2 separate regions of the Homo sapiens genome follow, and region 1 is linked to region 2. The links come from fine-mapping of genetic effects on gene expression. Tissue or cell type: whole blood. Region 2 holds a variant in brackets; the other region holds the start of a gene. All regions are shown on one strand. Distances are from middle to middle.

Region 1 (11,009 bases), 30 kb before region 2:
ACATTGATTCAGCAGTCTTTTTTTTTTTTTTTTTTTTTTTGAGATGGAGTCTTGTTCTGTCACCCAGGCTGGAGTACAGTGGCACAGTCTTGGCTCACTGCAACCTCTGCCACCTGGGTTGCAGTGATTCTCCTCCCTCAGCCTCCCGCGTAGCTGGGACTACAGGCATGCACCACCATGCCTAGCTAATTTTGTATTTTTAATACAGACGGGGTTTCACCATGTTGGCCAGGCTGGTCTCGAACTCCTGACCTCATGTGATCTGCCCGCCTCGGCCTCGCAAAGTGCTGGGATTACAGGCATGAACCACCATGCCCAGCTGATTCAGCATTCTTTTCTATCTCCAGGTAAAGGGAAAGTTATTTGCATGCCTGGCTTTGTAACATTCTAGCAGTGATTGGTCAAGAAGAATGCGGCTGACAGCTGACACCTGGCTTCTCTTCAGGATGTTGTGAATTCGGATTGGACCAGCAGGTCTGCCCTGCTGTTAGCTCTCTAGGGCATCCAAGGACAGAGGATCATTCTCAAGGCATTCTTAGTTGTTCTAACTCCATTCACCACTACAAGAGCATGGGCTTTGGAAACAGGCAGAGTTGGGCCTGAAACCTGTGTTCAGCCCTTGATAGCAGGGTGGCTTTGTCTCTACTGATCAATCTCTCAGAGCCTCAGCTTCTTCTTTCATAAAACAGGCCAGTTAATAATCCCAGTCAGTTAACAAATCCATGTAAGATTGTCATAAAGATCAGAGATAATGTGGATACTGAGCCTGAAATGCGTCCCTAAATGATAGTTATTAGCTTTTGTCTGTATGGACTCTGGAATCAATTTCTTTCCCAATTCCACTTAAAACAGAGACAATAAATTCAAGTATTTCCTCAAGCTGCTGTAGAGTGTCATTTTAAAATGACATTGACTCAACTCCCCTTTCCTTACAACATAATTGGAAAAAAAAAAAAAAAAGCTGGCTGGGCACGGTGGCTCATGCCTGTAATCCCAGCACTTTGGGAGGCTGAGGCGGGCGGATCACGAGGTCAGGAGTTCGAGACCAGCCTGGCCAACACAGTGAAACCCCATCTCTACTAAAAATACAAAAAAGTAGCCAGGTGTGGTGGCGGGTGCCTGCAGTCCCAGCTACTCGGGAGGCTGAGGCAGGAGAATGGCTTGAACCTGGGATGCAGAGTTTGCAGTCAGCCGAGATCGCACCATTGCACTCCAGCCTGGGCAACAAAGCGAGACTCCATCTCAAAAAAAAAGAAAAAAGGCTTCAAGCATTGGCCCTGGGTTCTGCACTCAGATGAGGCTTCAGTGTTCTGCCCAATCTCATGGAAGTTCATTCTCCTGGTGCTGGAGCTGCACACACATGAAGTTGCTGAGCTACCATGAGAAGGGAGCATATAGACAAGATGAGTCTTCCCGGTAGCCTAAAAAAAAGGAGGAAGGTGCTACACTGTGCATCATTTTAAGTGCTCTGCGCCAGCTCTCAATGTCCTACACATTAACTCAATAATCCTGACAACCACCACAATGCATTAGGTAGTATTAGCAAAATGGTTAGGAGAAAAGATTCTGGAGTCAAACCACCTGCATTCCAATACTGACTTCACACTTCACTAGCTGGGTGTCCTTAGGCTAGCTACTTATCCTCTCCAACTCAATGAGAGTCATCTGAAAGCTCAGGATGATATTTAATGCCTATCTCCTGGGGTTATTGTGAGGCTCATGGGTCAAATATTCATAGCATAATGCCTGCCACAAAGTAAGCACTCATTAAATAATGTTGTTATATAGGCAATAGTAATTATCTTGCACAAGATCAAACACCAGTAAGTAGGTAGAAATCCTGGTCTTCTGACTCCAAATTCCAGGCTTTTTCTGTGACCATATGTTACCCTACTGAATGTTTATTTTTCCTTAAATGATTAAAATACCATAGTACGGTTTGTGCTGTTCTAAGAACACTGAAGTATTCTCGCTAATTATACAAACTGCAAAGAAAAGATCACTATTAGCAGAATATAATGCTGTTTCACTTTGCACTGGCTTGAGAAAAAGCCCCCACATAACAGACCATTTCTGAGATTCCCAAGAGCTATACTTTCCAGGAGTTATATACTTCTTTGATACCAAAACCAGTGTCGCACCTGCCAAGGGAAAGGACTGTCAGTTTGACTAGTCTAGAGGCCACGTTACCTTCTCTCTTTTGTGCTAAGTGGTGACAGCCGACTGTTCATCTCCCTTTTAAAGTTGTTCTCTAATATTTTATTTCAAATTCCTCCAAACAAAACAACTTGCAGCTGCAAGTCATGCTAGCTTTCTGGTTCACTGCCTACTTGGGCATAAATAACCAGTACACTGGCTCCTACTTTAACTACCACTAGGCCTGGCACAGTTCCAGGCTCTTTGGGTACTGACGTTGTGGAGTCCATAAAGTTAATTTTCCAGACAAACTTGATTTAACCTGGTATGAACTTCAGACGATGCAGCTCTGGGGAAATTCACACTGACTTTCTCACTTCATTTCAAAATATTTTTTTTAATTGTCAAAAAGAAACATTCATGAACATAGACCATATTCTTTCTGGGTCATAAAACAAAATAAAACATTTCAAAGAATTTAAGTCATATAAACTGAGTTCTCTGAAAATAATGGAATTAAACTAGAAATCAATAACAGATATCTTTAAAAATCACCAAATAGTTGGAAATTAACACACTACAAAAATAACCCATGAGTCAAAAAGGAAGTCACAAGGAAAATATTTTTGGGCCAGGCATGGTGGCTCACATCTATAATCCCAGCACTTTGGGAGCCAATGCGGGAGCATCATTTGAGGTCAGGAGTTCAAGACCAGCCTGGCCAACATGATGAAACCCTGTCTGTACTAAAAATACAAAAATTAGCTGGGCATGATGGTGCATGCCTGTAGTTCCAGCTACTTGGGAGGCTGAGGTGGGAGAATCGCTTGAACCTGGGAGGCGGAGGTTGCAGTGAGCCGAGATCACACTATTGCACTCTAGCCTGGGTGACAGAGTGAGACTCCATCTCAAAAAAAAAAAAAAAAAAAAAAATATTTTGAACTGAATGAAAATGATGATACAACATATTAAGATTTCTGTGATGTATTTAAAGTGGTGCTTACAGGAAAAATTATGGCATTAAATGCTTATATTAGAAGGCGGGGTGCAGTGGCTCATGCCTGTAATCCCAGCACTTTGGGAGGTTGAGGCAGGCAGATTATCTGAGCTCAGTAGTTGGAGACCAGCCTAGGCAATATGGTGAAACCCTGTCTCTACAAAAAACACAAAAATTAGCCAGGCGTGGTGGCACACCTACTTTGGAGGCTGAGGCAAGAGGATCGCCTGAGCCTGGGAGGCAGAGGTTGCAGTGAGCCAAGATCACACCACTGCACTCCAGCCTGGATGACAGAGCAAGACTGTCTCAAAAAAAAAAACAAAAAAAATTCTTCCAAACATTTAAGGAATTAATAATACCAATTTAATGTAAACATCTCTAGAAAATAAAAGGGAAGATAAACACTTCCCAACTCATTTTCTGAGATCAGCATTATCCTGATGCCAAAATTAGCAGATATTACAAGAAAACTATACATCAATATCTCTCAAAACATGAATGTAAAAATTTCCAATAAAATATTACTAATCAAATCCAGCAATACATTAAAATGATAAAATCATAAATAAGTTGGGTTTATCCCAGGAACAAAAGGTTGGTTCAACATCTAAAAATCAATATAATTCACCGTATCAACAGACTACATAAAAACAATTAGGTGGTGCACACCTATAATTCTAGCTACTCAGGCCTGGCAGAAGTGGGAGGATTGCTTAGGCCCAGGAGTTCAAGGGTACAGTGAGCAGTGATAACACTACTGCACTCCAGCCTGGGTGACAGAGCGAGACTCCCTCTCAATTAAAAAAAAAAAAGAAAAGAAAGGAAAAGGAAATGATCACCTCTAGATGAAGAAATGCATTTGATAAAATTCAACATCCATTCATAATTTTAAAAAGCAAACAAAAACACTAAGCAAACTAGGAATGAAAGTGAACTTTCTCAACCTCCTATTAATAAAAGGCTTCTGTGTTAGATACATATGGTTGCATAACAAATTACCCCAAAACATAATAGCAAACATATTTCAGTTTCTAGAGGTCAGGAACCCAAGTATGGCTTAGCTGGGTGCCCCTGGCTCAAGGTCTCTCACAAGATTGAACTTACATTGTCATCTGGGGCTACAATCTCATCTGAAAGCTCACTGGAGTTGGGGTGGTGGGGGAGATCCTCTATCCTCAAAAGGCTACATACGGTCTGATTCCATTTTCATGACATTCTGGAAAAGGCAAAACTATAGAGACAGAAAACAGATCAATGGTTGCCATTTGCAAACAATTTCTGTTCACAGACCACCTCTAGGCCATCCTTGTACTGGGTTTCCAGGGCAGCCACCAGCCCTCTCTCCTCAGCTCCAGGCTCCTTTCTGAACCCTTCCTGGGTTTACATTTAGTAGCATGCTGCTTGACACGGGATTGGCCCCTGTTTCATAGACACTGTGTTAATTTTCTCTCCTCGGGTACTGCTTCCAGGACAAGTACCCGCATTGATGCTGGCACTGGGAACGGGACGGATGATAAAGTGTGAGGCACTCTGCCCAGTGGCAACTGACATGATTTCATAATTTCCCCAGGTCCATCCGCTTCCCGCCAGTGTGCTCAGATTTGAGCAGTAGGAGTCCGTTGGGAGAAAGATGGGGGAAAGGAACCAAAAACAATTAAGGCAGACTCTGTAAGCTTCCACCTCCCACACCAGAAAAGTCCCACAGCAGAAGACTGCCGTGGAACCTTCCCTACTGTAGAGGAAAGTGCTGACTTTAAGCAATTTCTGCAGTCACGCCTTCCTCTTCTTTCCTTTCTCCCTCTCATTCATTCACTGACGCCGCAGCACTGATCAGCACAGACACAGAAGATGCCTCCAAGGGACCAAAGGGAATAACCGCGGTTCTGAGGTGTGGGGACTGCTGTTGCAGGGAAATGTGGACCGCTCAGGAGGGGCTCCTAGCGCAGGCGTCTTGCTCCGCAGACGCGGTTACAGCTGCGCTTTGCACGGCCTGCGGAAGTTTGCAAATCTAGCAGGTCTGCTCTCCCGGCAGCAGGACTCGGCCCGCGGTCAGGACAGCTCCCATGGACGGAGGGCGGCCCTCCGAGGCCTTTCCCTGCAGCCGGGAGGGCGGCCGGGCTGGGCCGGGCCGGGGGTGGGAAGCTGGGGCGCGGCGGCCCCGCCCAGGCAGACCCGGGGCGGGAGCCGGTTCCCATAGGGATCGCGGGCCGAGCCACGCCGAGCCGAGCTGGGCGGAAGAAGGCGAGGCGGGAGCCAGGCCCGTCCCTGACCGCCGCGGCGCCGTGAGTCCCGGGCGGGCAAGGAGGCGCGGGCCGTCCCTGGCCAACACGTGGCACCGCTCCATGCTGCGCGGCGCGGCTGAGGTGCACGTCCGGGCGCGGGAGGGTTTTCCCAGTCCCGGGGGCGTGGGGCGCGGGGCGCGGGTTGGTCTCCTGCGGCCAAGCCTCGCCGCCGCCTCCGCGGGGAGCCGGGAGGTGTCTTCTTGCCGCAGGGAAATGAGACCCGAAATTAGAACCGGGGAAGCCCTTAGCCCTCCCCGTACTCCAGCCAGCTCAGGTGTCTTAGATCGGATGAACGATAACGTTAAAAAGATAGCTTATCTTACAGCTCGGCTCGTTTTAGGATGGCAAGTTACATTTTAACTTACAGGGTATTTAACGGGCGATTAAAATCGGGTTACTGGAGGCAGCTAACTCTAGGCTGTTACTCCTGATCGCGTTGCCATTGCCGACACGGGTACACTCTTCATTCCTTAACATGTGCTGTTCTGTTCTAGGACCGTGACAAACACTCATCGTTGGGTGGGGCTCTAGTGCAGTCCGTTGGTGCCAATATTTTATAAGCGACGTTTTCAAACTATGTGAAGATCCTTTCTTTTCTTTTCTTTCTTTCTTTTTTTTTTTTTTTTTTTTTTTTTTTTGAGACGGAATCTCGCTCTGTCGCCCGGGCTGGAGTGCAGTGGCGCGATCTCGGCTCACTGCAACCTGCGCCTCCCAGGTTCACGCGATTCTCCTGCCTCAGTCTCCTGAGTTGCTGGGACTACGGGCGCCCATCACCACACCCGGCTAATTTTTTGTATCTTTAGTAGAGACGGAGTTTCAGTATGTTGGCCAGACTGGTCTCGAACTCCTGACCTCAGGTGATCTGCCCGCCTCAGCCTCCCAAAGTGCTGGGATTACAGGCGTGAGCCACCATTCTCGGCTGAAGATCCATTTTAAGAAGATTTATTCCTCTATGATGGAGAAGTATGAAAAAATTGGGAAAATTGGAGAAGGATCCTATGGAGTTGTTTTCAAATGTAGAAACAGGGACACGGGTCAGATTGTGGCCATCAAGAAGTTTCTGGAATCAGAAGATGACCCTGTCATAAAGAAAATTGCCCTTCGGGAAATCCGAATGCTCAAGGTAATTGATTCACTTTTCCTTTTTTTTCTTTTTCGAGACAGGGTTTCACTCTGTCTCCCAGGCTGGAGTGCAGCCATGTGATCATAGCTCACAGCAGCCTGGAACTCCTGGGCTCAAGCCATGCTTCTGCCTCAGCCTCCTGAGTAGCTGGGATTACAGGTTCTAGCCACTGCTCCGGGATCCACTTTTTCTTTAAAGTGAATTTTTAGGGATGAAAGAAATAAAGTGAGTCATGTTATGTTAAAAGAATGTCATGGGACATGGTTATATCTTACTTCATAGCCTTTTGACTTCAGTGACACAAATGGGATATCTGTGCACAAGTCACTAATTATATAATGAACTAGAAAGCAGAGACAAAAGTGCCAGGTAAGGTGGCATTCACTTTTAGAGATGCTGTGGGATATTTATTTTTCTTCCCCATAATTTCTCTCCCACCTGTAGACCTGGGTTTTCAAGGACCATTACAATTTGATAGTATAGGAATGTAAGACAATTCAATTTTGCTGGCATTGTTGATTTTTAAACTTCTAAGGTATTTCCTATTGGTATACTCAGTCTATTAAGAGAATTAACATTTACCTGTTTTCAAACTGCTAGGAAGCTCACAGATTCTCATTACACCTCATATGTATTTACTGCTGAGCATCATCATGTCCCGTTTCTAAAAAGAAGCGTTTTTCTTAAAGAAGTGAAATGATCACTTTCTAATTTTTTTTAACATTTTTTAGAGATGGGATCTTGCTATGTTGGCCAGGCTGGTCTCGAGTTCCTGGCCTTAAGTGATCCTTCCACCTTGGCCTCCTAAAGTGGTGGGATTACAGGCATGATCCATCGAGCCTGGCCTGATCACTTTTCAAATGTTTATTAGTTAACCCTAAAAATAACATGATATCAGAGGGGGGAAAGGTATTTATTACAAGCTGAAAGTGTGTTTTTCGCTAATGGAGAGACTACTTTACAGAACTTCTGTGAAGGTAAAATCCAAATCGCAATGTGAAAGGTGACATGTAATGAATATGGTGGAGGTCAACTTTGTTTCAGTTATGGCCTCTCTGTTCTGACCTGTATAACTACTATGTGACAAGGGAAGAGCTACTTGATGAGAGACAGATGAATGAAACTTCCAGGGGATTTACTATTATTCTTGCTTCTCCATTTTCTCCAGATCACTCTACAAATCTTGTGCCCATGGATAAGTGTGTGGGGTCACTTCTAGATAAGGAACCTAAATGGAAAGTAGCAAGCTTTGGATAAATTGGAATGGGTGGGTAACAGGGCAACTTCTCTATTTAGGTTTGGAATGTTCTTAACCAACAGGATATTATCTATTGAGAGGAGATGCTTCCAAAGCCCCGCAGGGGAGTGCTCCCATGGGCAGGGGTGAGACCTGCAGTGTTTTGACCATCCCCCTGCCCGGGTCACCCTACCCTTACCCTCTCTGTACACAGGGAGAGGCTGTTGGGCATTTTCACTTCCTCAGGCTTTCCCAGGGGAGGAGGTGATCATTACATTTCAAAGGGTTCATTTACCTGAAAGAAAATCTGTTTCTTGCAGAAAGATACTCTTTTTCTGATTCTGAAGATTACTTTTGTGAATGCTCCTTTCAAATCTCTCACTACACTTTATCAATACTACATTAACAGTGATAGCTCCCCAAATTCATTGAGTTCTTCTGGGATGGAGACCTTGCCTCTGTAGCTCTATATCCCCAAAGCACACTAGTTGGCACATCTAGGCCTCCAAAAAATGTCATTGTTGGATTGGAAAAAAAAGTTAACAAAATAAACTCTTAACAAAGGTGGATGTTGCCAATAAATGGGGAAGTCAAATGTGTTCTCTTATCTGAATATTGATATCCTCCAAAGGATGGGGTTGTGTACACATGAGCCTGATTTCAAAGCATGCAGCACCCCACTCTCCAAATTAAGTGCACAGATGTAGACACCACTGATCTCTATGAAATGGTGGGACTAGATTATAGGTAGAGTCTGTTCTTTAAAGCTGTAACTTTTCAGAGTTGTGTGATATTCCTAACACATAATACGTACTAGGCTGGGCATGGTGGTGCGTGCCTGTGGTCCTAGCTACTAAGGAAAGAGGCCAAGGCAAGAGGATGGCTTAAGCCCAGCAGTTCAAGGCTATGGTGAGCTATGATTAGGCCACTGTATTCTATCTAGCCTGGGTGACAGTGAGACCCTGTCACTTATAAAATAAAGATACTTAATAAATATTTGTTGAGTAGGTGAATTGAGGGTATGGTAAATGAACATTTTATTTTCTCCATTTATGGATTCAGTAAATACTCATAGAGCCCCAGTTGTGCCTAAAACGATGTTTATGCAAAGTTGTACACCCTGTCTTTCAGAAGCTCAGCTCTTGGAAGGGAGGTAAGTTGAATTGCCCTTTGGCTCTCACCCCTTATAGACTGGGTTCCCAGTGAGCAGGGCATGTGTACCCTTGCCTGGTAAGAACTCTTTAGGTGCTTGTTGAATGGTGAAAATAAAGTGATTGGAGGCATGTTTGAGCTGAACTTTGAAATGTTTAGGGAAACGTGGAATGAGAGATAAGGCATTTCAGGCAGACACTCTATCCTAGGAAAAGGTGCATAAGTAGAAAGCACCCTATATTGAGGGAACACAGGTAATAACCCAGTGTCTTAGCCAAGATGCCCAGTGGGTGCTAACAGGCCAGGGAGAGAAGGAAGGGGGAAGCCAGGGTCCGGCAGGATCAAGTCATATTCTAGATTTCTTCTGAAAGAAGAGCACATAGGAATCTAATGATTGGATGAGAAATCAAGAACAATTTCAAGGTTTTTGACTGATTGACTGGAAGAATGAGGAGATTGTTCACTGTGATAGAGAGACCCAGGTGCAAATGTGGGGGAAAGGAGATGAAGAGCTCTGTTTTGGACAGGTTAAGTTTGAGTTGTGAACCCAAGGAGACTTGTAAAGTAGGCAGTTGACTACACAAGTCTGGCATTCAGGGGAAGTCCAGGTTGGAGACAGAGTTGGGGGACATAAGCATATCGATGGTATTTAAAGCTGTGGGACCGGAGGAGGTCACCATGTGGGATGGAGGGACAGGTACTAAAGGTGGAAGCTTGGTGTACCCAGCCTTTGGGGGTCAGGAAGATGAAAAGGAACCGGCAAGGGAGGCAAGAAGAGGCGATCTGCATGGTAGGAAACCCCATAGAACAATGTTCTTTCATTATTATTATTATTATTATTATTATTATTATTATTATTTCTTTTTTGGAGACAGTCTCACTCTGCTACCCAGGCTGGAGTGCAGTGGCACAATCTCAGCTCACTGCAACCTCCGCCTCCCAGGTTCAAGAGATTCTCCTGCCTCAGCCTCCCAAGTAGCTGGGATGAGAGGTGCCTGCCACTACACCTGGCCACTTTTTGTATTTTTAGTAGAGAGAGGGTTTCACCATGTTGGTCAGGCTGGTCTCAAACTCCTGACCTCAAATGACCCGCCCACCTTGGCCTCCCAAAGTGCTAGGATTATGGGCGTGAGCCCCCGCTCCTGGCCATAGTGTTCTTAAAAGCTTAGTGAAGAAGATTGTTCAAAAGTGAGGGGATGCTCTGTGTCTCCATTAGTAGATTTAGGATTAGCCATTGGCTTTGATCATGTGAGGGTCTTTGGCGACCTTGACAAGAGCTGTGTGAGTGGAGAGGCAGGAATGAAACCTTCATCAGCAAGGGATTAAGAGAGACGAGAGGAACAAAGTGGAGATAATGATATGGGCAACTGTTTTGAAGAGTTTTATTACAAAAGGAAGACAAAAATGGGGCAGAGGTGTTCGTAAAGATGTGGGCTGAAGACAGGTTTTTTTTGTGGTTGTTTTTATTATACGAGTGAGAAGTACATTTGTATGCTAATGGTGTAAATAAATCCAGTAGAGAAAAAACTTGATGTTGGAGGAGGGAGAGAATTGCTGGACCCGTGACCTTGAGTTACTGCCCTGAACCATACCAAACATAAATATCATTGCATAAAAAAAGACAATTTAGGCCAGGCATGGTGGCTCACGCCTGTAATCCCAGCACTTTGGGAGGCTGAGACGGGCGGATCACTTGAGGTCGGGAGCTTGAGGCCAACATGGCCAACATGGTGAAACCCCATCTGTATTAAAAATACAAAAACTAGGCAAGCGTGGTGTCAGGCACCTGTAATCCCAGCTACTTGGGAGTCTGAGACAGGAGAATCGCTTGAACCCGGGAGGCAGAGGCTCCAGTGAACTGAGATCGTGCCCCTGTGCTCCAGCCTGGGCGACAGAGCAAGACTGCTAGATTCTTTACATACACTCTCCTTAATCTTTCTGTAACAGGATCCACAGCTGGCTCTAAGCTATGGGGTGGAACTTCTTCTACCAGGGTATTCACCGTCTTCTGATTTGCATATGACACATGGACCCTACCTGAATTCAACTCCTTTCCGTAACTCAGGTTTAAACATACTAAGG
Region 2 (11,009 bases):
CCTTATCTCACACAATATACAAAAATCAACCCAATAGATTAAAGACTTAAACTGTAAAACTTCTAGAAGAAAACATAGGGGGAAAATTACACAGCATTGGTCTGGGCAGTGATTTTTTTAAATTTGACTCCAAAAGCATAGGCAACAAAAGCAAAAATGGACAATTTGGATTACATGAAACTAAAAAGTTTCTGCACAGTAAAGAAAACAACACTGTAAAGAAACAACCTATGGATTAGGAGAAACTATTTGCAAGCCCTACTCCTGATAAGGGGTTATATGTATCCAAAATATATAATGAACTCGGGCCGGGTGTGGTGGCTCACGCCTGTAATCCCAGTGCTTTGGGAGGCTGAGGCAGGCAGATCACCTGAGGTCAGGAGTTTGAGACCAGTCTGGCCAACATGGCAAAACTCTGTCTCTACTAAAAATACAGAAATTAGCCAGGTGTGGTGGTGCACGCCTGTAATCCCAAATATTCAGGAGGCTGAGGCACAAGAATTGTTTGAACCCAGCCAGGAGGCAAGGGTTGCAGTGAGCCGAGATCTCTCCACTGCACTCCAGCCTGAGCAACAGAGTGAGACTCCGTCTCAAAAACAAAACAAAACAAAACAAAACAAAAATACCCAAAACATATAATACACTCAAACAGCTCAAAAACTAGATGTTCCCCTTCCTTGGCCTCCCTTGGCCTCCCTTGGCCTCCCTCCTATGCTCAGTGGTGTCCAAAGTCCAGAGGGGTCCGAGGCAGCAGGGGGCTGGCGTGTCAGCATGTCCCTGAGCATGCGCACACCTGGCTGGGTCATGACAGTCCCTGGGCTTGGCCATAACTTTGCTCTGAAATCGGAGTGGGCACCAGGAGTGGGGAGAGGTCAGGCAGTAGGAGCAGGCATGGCACTTCTGAGCCTGCAGGGGTTGGGGGGCCTCCCAGGTCCCAAGTGTGCAGACATGCCCGGGTCTGCAGCCATGACTGGGTGTCTGCAGCTGCCTGGGAGGGTGGGGCTCCTGCCCCTCCAACCTGAGGCTCCCATCTGTTCCCAGCTCCTGCCAGCTCCAGGGAGCACACAGCCATGGCTGCGCCTCCCCCACTGCAGCCAGCATCATGGCAGCAGCTGCTCCAGATGGGCCACTGGTGCCATCACTGTCTCTAAAAAAGGGGGAAAAAATAAGCCTGGGATCTGAATGGACATCTCTCAAAAGAGGACATACAAATGGCCAACAGATATATGGAAAAATGCTCAACATTTCTAATCATTAGGAAAATGCAAATTTAAACCACAATGATATATCATCACACACCTGTCAGGATGGCTGTGATAAAAAAGATGTAAGATAAATGTTGGCGAGGATGTGGAGAAAAAGAAACCCTTAAAGTTGTTGATGGGAATGTAAATTATGGAAAAATATATGGAGATTCCTCACAAAACTAAAAATAGAATTACCATATGATCCAGCAATCCCACTTCTGAGTATTTACCCAAAAGTGAAATTTGAAATGTCTGCCCTCCTATGTTCATTGCAATACTGTTCACAATAGCCAAAGTCATAAAATTAACCTAAGTGGCCATCAGTGGATGAATATATAAAGAAAATGTAGTATATATACACAATACAGTACTATTCAGCCTTAAAAAAGGAGAAAATTCTGACATTTGTGACAACATGGATGAAATTGGGGAACATTATGCTGCTGAGTAAGCCAGGCACAGAAAGAAAAATGCACATGTTCTCACTTATATGTGGAATCTGAAACAAGTGAATTCATTGATATAGTTTGGATATTTGTCTCCACCCAAATCTCATGTTGAATTATAATCCCCAGTGCTGGAGATGGGGTCTGGTGGAAGGTGTTTAGATCATGGGGGCAGATCCCTCATTACTTGGTGTTGTCTTCGTGATAGTGAGTTCTCGTGAGATCTGGTCATTTAAACAGGTATGCCCCACTGCCAATTCCCTCTCTCTCCCTTGTTCTTGGTTTTGCCATGTGACATGCCTGCCCCTCCTTCACCTTTTGCCATGATTGTAAGCTTCCTGAGGCCTCCCTAGAAGCTAAGCAGATGCCAGCCCCGTGTTTCCTGTAAAGCCGGCAGAACCATGAGCTAATTAAACCTCTTTTCTCTATAAATTACCCAGTCTCAGGTATTTATAGCAATGTGAGAACAGCCTAATACATTCTTAGAAGCAGAGAGTAGAATGGTGGTTACAGAGGCTAGGGGATGAGGAGAATGGAGAGATGATGGTTGAAGGGTACAAAATCTTAGACAAGAGGAATAAGTTTCATTTCCAAGATCTGTTGCACAGCATGGTGAATACAGTTGTTAATTATGTATTGTACACTTCAAAATTGCTGAGAGAGGCTGAGTGCAGGGGCTCACGCCTGTAATCCTAGCACTGTGGGAAGCTGAGGCAGGTGGCTCACCTGAGGTCAGGAGCTTGAGGCCAACCTGGCCAACATAGTGAAATTTTGTCTTTACTAAAAATACAAAAACTAGCCAGGCATGGTGGCAGGCACCTGTAATCCCAGCTACTTGGGAGGCTGAGGCAGGAAAATCACTTGAACCCAGGAGGCAGAGGTTGGAGTGAGCCAAGATCGTGCCACTGCACTCCAGCCTGGGTGACAGAGCAAGACTCTGTCTCAAAGAAAAAAAAAAAAATTGCTAAAAGAGTAGATTTCAAATGTTCTTACCACAAAAAAAAAGGTAAGTATTTGAAGTGATGGATATATGTTAATTAGCTAGGTTTAATTATTCCATATTATAGTCATAAATCCTAACATTAATTTGAACCCCATAAACATATATAATTAGCCAGGCATGGTGGCTCACGCCTGTAATCCCAGCACTTTGGGAGGCTGGGGTGGGCGGATCACTTGAGGTCAGGAGTTTGAGACTAGCCTGGCCAACATGGTGAAACCCTGTCTCTACTAAAAATACAGAAATTAGTTGGGGGTGGTGGCTGGTGCCTGTAATCCCAGCTACTCAGGAGGCTGAGGCAGGAGAATTGCTTGAACCCAGGAGGCTGAGATTGCAGTGAGCTGAGATCGTGCCACTGCACTCCAGCCTGGGCAATAGAGCAACTATATATATATGTGTGTGTGTGTGTGTGTGTGTGTGTGCATGTGTGTATATATATTATATATAATATATGTATATATATAATTATAAATTGTATATTTACAATAAGTTTACAATTTACAATAAAGCTTTAAAAGAACAACAAAAAATTAAATATACCTCTATTGCTTGTACGTTTTTCTACTTTTGATAGAAACATGGACATATTAAATATTTCACTTTTAACTCTAGTATAAGAAAGTCAATAATGCAAGAGTGATGATAAAGAGCAACTCTCACTTGGCATCATGATCAGGGAGCAATAGGGAGTGGGTGACTGCGGTGACCTAAAGCATACAAGCCTTGTCTAAAGTGAACAGCTGCTCTCAGCCCTAGCTCATAAGTGCCACAGAGTCTACAGGCCTAGACCTGCTGATCCCCAGCATTTGCAAGAGACTCTTGGTAACCAGGATTTTAAAGTAACATTTCCTGGTTAAGGGTAGCGGCCGGGCGTGGTGGCTCACACCTATAATCTCAGCACTTTGGGAGGCCGAGGTGGGCAGATAACTTGAGGTCAAGAGTTTGAGATCAGCCTGGCCAACATGGTGAAACCCTGTCTCTACTAAAAATACAAAAATTAGCCAGGCATGGTGGTGCACACCTGTATTCCCAGCTGCTTGGGAGGCTGAGGCATGAGAATCGCTTGAGCCCTGGAGGTGGAGGTTGTGGTGAGCCGAGATTGTGCCACTGCACTCCAGCCTGGGTGACAGAGCGAGACTCCATCTAAAAAAAAAAAAAAAAAAAGGTTGGCAACTAGCACAAAATTCTTCAAAATCTCATGGGCTAAACAGGCCAAGCAATTGACCTTAGTAGATGGAGGGTCTGAGCTTATCAGAACAGATGGGTGCCCAATGAAGACAGAGGGCTGACGACACAGAGAGGCAGCTGCCCACGTAGGATACGTAGCATTCTCAGCTCTGCAGGGAAACCAGGTAGGGCTCTGGCTAAATTCAACCTCAGAAAAATGAAGTCCTTTTTTTAATGTCACAGAAAATACTTGACTTGGCAACATAATATGGAACATCAGTATTTGAAACACAGAGAGAAGGCTGGGTACAGTGGCTCACGCCCATAATCCCAGCAATTTGGGAGGCTAGGGTGAGAGGATCGCTTGAGCCCAGGAGTCTGAGATCAGCCTGGGCAACATAGTGAGACACTGTCTCTAAAAAAATTTTAAAAATAAAAAAACTAGCTTGTTATGATGGTGTGCACCTGTAGTCCCAGCTACTGAGGAGGCTGAGGGAAGAGGATCACTTGAGCCTGGAGTTTGAGGCTGCAGTGAGCCATGATCATGCCACTGCACTCCAGCCTGGGTAACAGAGAAAGACCCTGTCTCAAAAAATAAAAAATAGACTAGGCACAGTGTCTCACGCCTGTAATCCCAGCATTTTGGGAGGACGAGGTGGGCGGTTGGCTTGAGCCCAGGATTTCAAGATCGGACAGGGCAACGTAGCGAAACCCTGTCACTACACAAAATTTTAAAAATTAGCTGGGCATGGTTGTACACATTTGTAGTCCCAGCTACTTGAGAGGCTGAGGCAGGAGGATCACTTGTGCCTGGGAGTTCGTGGCTGCTGTGAGCTGTG[AT/T]TGCACCACTGCATTCCCACCTGGGTGACAGAGTGAGACCCTGTTTCAAAAAAGTAATAATAATTTGAAAATGAAAATTTTAAAAAACACAAAGAGAAAATAAAAGGAAGACTAAAATAAAATAGCAGCAGCAAAAGTGGAAACTTTTGTACAAGAGAAAGTAAATCTGAGTCCGAGCAGGCCCGTGCTTCTAGATAGAGCATTAACTGAAGGACGGTGATACTGGCCTGGTAAGGAGCACCAAGAGCTTCAAGATTAGCCCAGCACAGACGCCCCAGACCTGAGGCTTTGGCTTCACAGACTTGTATATAGGAAGGAATTGTCATTAAATGAGCCCCAAACATCTTTGTGGTATATATGGTAATTTAACCTGTTCTGTCTATTAAGTTTACTTGTATGTACCGTGAACATGTTGGGTAAGCCTGTAACAGTTTGTCCATCATGTTGCTTAGTTCTTCTCATCTAATTCGTTTGTACGTCCCGAAAGAACTCCATTCAGCATTGAAGCAGAAACATCCAAACCCTTGTGAATGCAAACATTCACAATGTTGGGGCTATGATGGACACCTCCAGCTATTCGCTGCAGACTGGTTTGAGGATCAGAGGTGTCCCTTTGAGTTCTACCCCTGAGGTCAGTGGAGTCAATAGAGAGAGAGGAGTAAGGTAGTTTGAGATGTTAAGTCCACATAATCTGGCTTCTGGTCTCACCACTGCACCGATACCGTTTCCAATAAGGTCACTCGACCCCAACCCAGGGAAGCCCACCAGGCATCTCTCAGCCCTCTGTTTCCATCTGACCTTTCAGCAGCATCTGTCAACACTGACCACTTCCTCCTCCCATGATGCCCCCATGGCGCCTGCTCTGCTGTCTTCTCTCTCATCTTAAGGGGCTTTCTTCCCTTTCCCCTTTCGTGTTTCCTCCTCATCAACCACACATCTGGGTGGGAGGGTTCTTTAGACAGCTTTCTCATCTCACTCTCGCTCCTTCGGGGCAATCTCCTCTCTCTGTCTATGGCTTCGCTTACACACATGCGGACTCCCTGGCTTTTATCTTCAGCTCAGACTCTGGCTGACATAACAACTCCACTTTGGTGTCTCAGATCCCCACCAATTCAATGAGACAAAGCTAGTGACTTCTTTCTCCCAGTCTTACTCCCCCTCTCTGTGATGGCATCACCATCTGCCCCAGTGTGTAAACCTTTGTGTCATTTTTGACAGTTCCAGTGTGTAAACCTTTGTGTCATTTTTGACACTTCCTTCTCCCCTGTCCCTCACCTCCAGCCGATCACCACATCCGGACTATTCTGATAACAAAATACATCTCAAGACAATGCTTCTCACCGACTACCCTGCCTCTGCTCTGCTCCAAGTCACCACAATGTCAGCTATCAACAGCCACTTCATCCATTTTGCGTCCTCCAAGCCATTCTATATCCTGTTGCTGTAGTGAGCTTTTAAGAGCCCCATGGTATCATATCACGTCTTGCTGAAATCCTTCCAGTGGCTTCCCATTGCACTAGGATAGAGTGAATTGCTTAGCGTGGCCTGCAAGGCCCTGTAGGATCTGCCTTCTGACTGGCTGGCCTTGATTCCACGAGCTTCACCCACCAGCCACACTGTCTTTCAGTTGCTGAAGTGACCCAAGTTCTCTCCTGACTCAGGGCCAGTCACTGCCTGGAAAGCTGCCATCTTTGCCTTTACCACCACCCCTGCCCTTGGTTTGGTCAGACCTTTACCCTCTAGACTCGGCTCAAGGTCACTTCCTCAGGGCCAGTTTCTCTGAGACAGCCTAATTTCATAGATTATTTTTGGCACTTCTTTGTTTAATGCCTGAGTCCTCTGTCTCTTTCACCAATACCTGATGCAGAGTAGGTGCTTATATTAGTCAGGGTTCTCTAGAGGGACAGAACCAATAGGATAGATGTATATATGAAGGGGAGCTTATTAGGAGAATTGGCTCACATGATCACAAGATGAAGTCCCACAACAGGCCGTCTGCAAGCTGAGTCCCAAAACCTCAAAAGTAGGGAAGCCATCAGTGTAGCCTTCTGTCTGTGGCTGAAGGCCGGAGAGCCCGTGGCAAACCACTGTGTAAGTCCAAGAGTCCAAAAGCTGAAGAACTTGGAGTCTAATGTTCGAGGGCAGGAAGCATCCAGCACGGGAGAAAGATGAAGGCCGGAAGACTCAGCAAATCAAGTGCCTGCATTATTCTAGCTGTGCTGGCAGCTGATTAGATGGTGCCCGTCCAGATTGAGGGTGGGTCTGTCTCTCCTAGTCCTCTGACTCAAATGTTAATCTCCTTTGGCAACACCCTCACAGACACAGCCAGAAACAGTACTTTGCATCCTTCAATCCAATCAAGTTGGCACTCAGTATTAACTATCACAGGGCTCTAGGGATATTTGTTGAATATATGAACACAGCTAGACGGGGACTGGCTTCATAAGGGTGCTATGCCAGACCACATATCTGCTGCTCTGGAGTATTTTCGGGTCACCTGGAATCCTGGCAACCCAGTGAAAGTTAATAATTTATTTTAAAATATTGATAATTTAATATTTATAACCCCTCATTAGGATTTAGTATTAATGATCATCTTTCTATATTAAAATTATTCTAAAAACAGGTTGAGAGATAAGTTATCAGCTATTTGCAATTATTTGAAGATCATCTCATGGAGGAAGATGGGAGAGACAAGTTACACCTTCCTGTGTTGCCAGAGGCACTGTAAGCCCTCAAAGGAAGCAATTTGGCAATATATATCACAAGCCTTAAATTGTCTATAGGCTCCTTAAAGCTGGCCATAATATGGTAAAAATACTGTCATACTCCTGGCCAAGGGGTAAATATTCACAATCCTTTTGGAAAGCAATTTGACTCTATCTAGTTAGAGCCACATTTCTGGGGCTCTAGATGGTGCCCAGTTAACTTCAGGTCATTCTCAGTTAATGAATCATTAACTTAATGGCCACTTCCTCAAAGAGATTTTCCCTGAACCACACCTCACCCTCAAACCAGGTACACTTTACCTCATTTTTATAACATTTATCATAGCTATAATTACTTCTCCAACATCTGTCTCCTTTCCTAGGTTCTAAGCTCCAGGCCGGTAGGGGCAGTACTTGCTTTATTTGTCTCTATATCCTTAGGGCTAACACAGTGCCATATGCACCTTAAGATATATAAATAATTGTTGAATAAAATGAATAGAGAAAAATCATTCTAAATAAAAATAGATTTAACCCAAAGGTAACAATATCAATAATTAACCTTTACAGAGAGGTTAATATTTACCTGACCCTGTTGTATGTGCCTGTGTGTAATTGGCAGTACAGCCCTTGCGCTTCTTACTCTTACAGATGGAAAACTGAGGCCTACAGAACTTACCTAATTTGGTCCAAGTGAGGCAACCAGCTAATAAGTTGCTTATCAAAATCTTATTTATAATAGCAAAAAATTGGAAAGAACCTACATGTTATTTGAATATTTAATACATGCAGTTATCAGAACCTCAGTTTTGTTTCCTTTTTTAAAATAAATTTATTTATTTATTTAGAGACAGAGTTTTGCTCTGTTGCCCTGGCTGGAGTGCAGTGGCACAATCTGGGCTCACTGCAACCTCTGCCTCCTGGGTTCAAGTGATTCTCATGCCTCAGTCTCCCGAGTAGCTGGGATTACAGGTGCGTGCCGCCACGCCCAGCTAATTTTTGTAGTTTTAGTAGAGACAGAGTTTCACAATGTTGCCCAGGCTGGTCTTGAACTCCTAAACTCAGGCATCCGCCTGCCTTGGCCTCCCAAAGTGCTGGGATTACAGGCATGAGTCACCACGCCCAGCTAAGAACTTTGGTTTTCAAAAGATGTATAGTAACGTAGCAAGGTGGGTGCAATATAACAGTTACTGGTCCCATTCAGACAAATGGATATGGCTGTGACAGTGTCCTTTACTGGCACAGTGCTACTCCTTGCTTGGGTGCCCAGATCATAGCTCTTGCGGTACATACCAGCTGTGTCAGGGTGGAGCAGAGGAAGCTGAATAGAGAAAGTAACATCTGGAGGTGGGGCATGCTTTAGAGACAGGAAACTGAACACATCCTGAAATGAAAGGGAGTGTGAGCCTTCTAGGAAGTGAGAGAAATTCAGTGGGTCCAGAAGGAAGTTATAAGTGTTGGGGCTGGAGAGGTAAGCAGAGGCCAAATGGAGAGGACCTTTGGGCCTTGTCCTGGGGCAGCAGTGTCCTGCTGTGATCACTGCACGTTTGGACGTGGCAAGTGGGAGGCACCAGGCTTGGCATCCAGAGAAGGTCGGGGGATTTGTTTGGGTAGAATTGATGCATTTCTACTTTTGTTAGAAGAGCCAGCTGGAGACATGAGGACTAAATATGGAATGTGGAAAATGGAAAGAGAATTCTAAGATTCAAAGTCTTGGCCTCAATGTCACATCCTGTCAAGGGAGCAAATAGTGTGAAAATGAAAGTAAAGCCTAAGGATGATTATTTTTCAGTCTGAAAGAAAACTTCTGCTTTCTGCGAATTCTATCATAAAGTTAGTATTTAGCCCCTTTTAACCTGGTTGTTTACTCTCTGGTTGAGACATCTTAGTCAATCCAATTCAGAGGTTTAAGACAGTAGTCAGTTCTATCCTACTATGTTTGGAGAATGTTAGTTCAGGCTAAGGGTTTTCAGGTATGATAACAAATGTGGCATTTTATAGCTTGGAGTGCCCTCAGTTCTAAGATCCAAACGTGTCTGGAATTGGTGGGTTCTTGGTCTCACTGACTTCAAGAATGAAGCCACAGACTCTCGCGGTGAGTGTTACACTTCTTAAAGGCGGCGTGTCCGGAGTTTGTTCCTTCTGATGTTCGGATGTGTTGAGTTTCTTCCTTCTGGTGGGTTTGTGGTCTCCCTGGCTCAAGAGTGAAGCTGCAGACCTTCGCAGTGAGTGTTACAGCTCTTAAGGCAGTGTGTTTGGAGTTGTTCTTTCCTCCCAGTGGGTTCGTGGTCTCCCTGGCTTCAAGAGTGAAGCTGCAGCCCTTTGCCATAAGTGTTACAGCAGTGCGGACCCAAAGCGTGAGCAGCAGCAAGATTTATTGCAAAGAGTGAAAGAACAAAGCTTCCACAGTGTGAATGGTGCCCAGGGTAGGTTGCCACTGCTGGGTCGGGCAGCCTGCTTTTATTCTCTTATCTGGCCCTACCCACATCCTGCTGATTGGTCCATTTTACAGAGAGCCAATTGGTCTGTTTTACAGAGAGGTGATTGGTCCGTTTTGACAGGGTGCTGATTGGTGCATTTACAATCCCTGAGCTAGACACAAAAGTTCTCCACGTCCCCACTAGATTAGCCAGATACAGAGTGTGGACACAAATGTTCTCTAAGTCCTAACCAGAGTAGCTAGATACAGAGTGTCGATTGGTGCATTCACAAACCCTGAGCTAGACACAGGGTGCTGATTGGTGTATTTACAATCCCTTAGCTACACATAAAGGTTCTCCAAGTCCCCACCAGAGTAACTAGTTACAGAGTGCCAGTTGGTGCATTCACAAACCCTGAGCTAGACCCAGGGTGCTGATTGGTGTGTTTACAAACCTTGAACAAGATACAGAGTGCCGATTGGTGTATTTACAATCCCTTAGCTAGACATAAAGGTTCTCCAAGTCCCCACCAGACTCAGGAGCCCAGCTGGCCTCACCCAGTGGATCCCACACCAGGCCACAGGTGGAGCTGCCTGCCAGTCCCATGCCGTGCGCCCGCACTCCTCAGTCCTTGGGTGGTCGATGGGACCGGGTGCTGCGGAGCAGGGGGCGGTTCTGATCGTGGAGGCTCGGCCGCGCAGGAGCCCACGGTGGGGGTGGGGGGGTGGGGAGGGGAGGCTCAGGCATGGCAGGCTGCAGGTCCTGAGCCCTGCCCTGCAGGGAGGCACCTAAGGCCCGGCCAGAAGTCGAGCACAGCAGCTGCTGGCCCAGGTGCTAAGCCCCTCACTGCCCGGGGCTTGTGGGCCAGGGGGCCGCTAGAGTGCCGGGCCCCCCAAGCCCATGCCCACCCGGAACTCGCCGGTTCCCGCCTGCGCCTCTCCCTCCACACCTCCCTGCAAGCTGAGGGAGCCGGCTCCGGCCTTGGCCTGCCCAGAAAGGGGCTCCCACAGTGCAGCGGCGGGCTGAAGGGCTCCTCAAGTGCCGCCAAAGTGGGAGCCCAGATAGAGAAGGCGCCGAGAGCGAGCGAGGACTGCCAGGGCTGCCAGCATGCTGTCACCTCTCACAAAGGTGATTAATGGGCTGCTCTGTTTCAATGATGGTGGTGCGTCCTCCAAAATTCA

The links. PIP is the estimated chance that this variant, and not a neighbour inherited with it, causes the effect.
Region 1: it holds the start of CDKL1, and the variant in region 2 is fine-mapped to the expression of CDKL1 in whole blood (INTERVAL, PIP 0.98).

Annotation. Positions count from the first base shown.
Region 1 is chr14:50,391,230-50,402,238 of GRCh38, reverse strand. It overlaps CDKL1 (cyclin dependent kinase like 1), which reads left to right and starts at 5,358. Exons shown (of 10, transcript NM_004196.7): 1 at 5,358-5,415; 2 at 5,910-6,538. The coding sequence starts at 6,371. RefSeq lists silencers at 5,040-5,265, 5,205-5,654 and an enhancer at 4,947-5,446.
Region 2 is chr14:50,361,715-50,372,723 of GRCh38, reverse strand. The region is part of intron 2 of CDKL1 (cyclin dependent kinase like 1); the gene reads left to right. Among named protein-coding and RNA genes, the nearest start is that of CDKL1, 30 kb to the left of the region's middle. RefSeq lists enhancers at 420-919, 920-1,421, 9,215-9,264, 9,405-9,814 and a silencer at 6,735-6,900. The variant AT/T (reference allele first, on the strand shown) is at 4,700.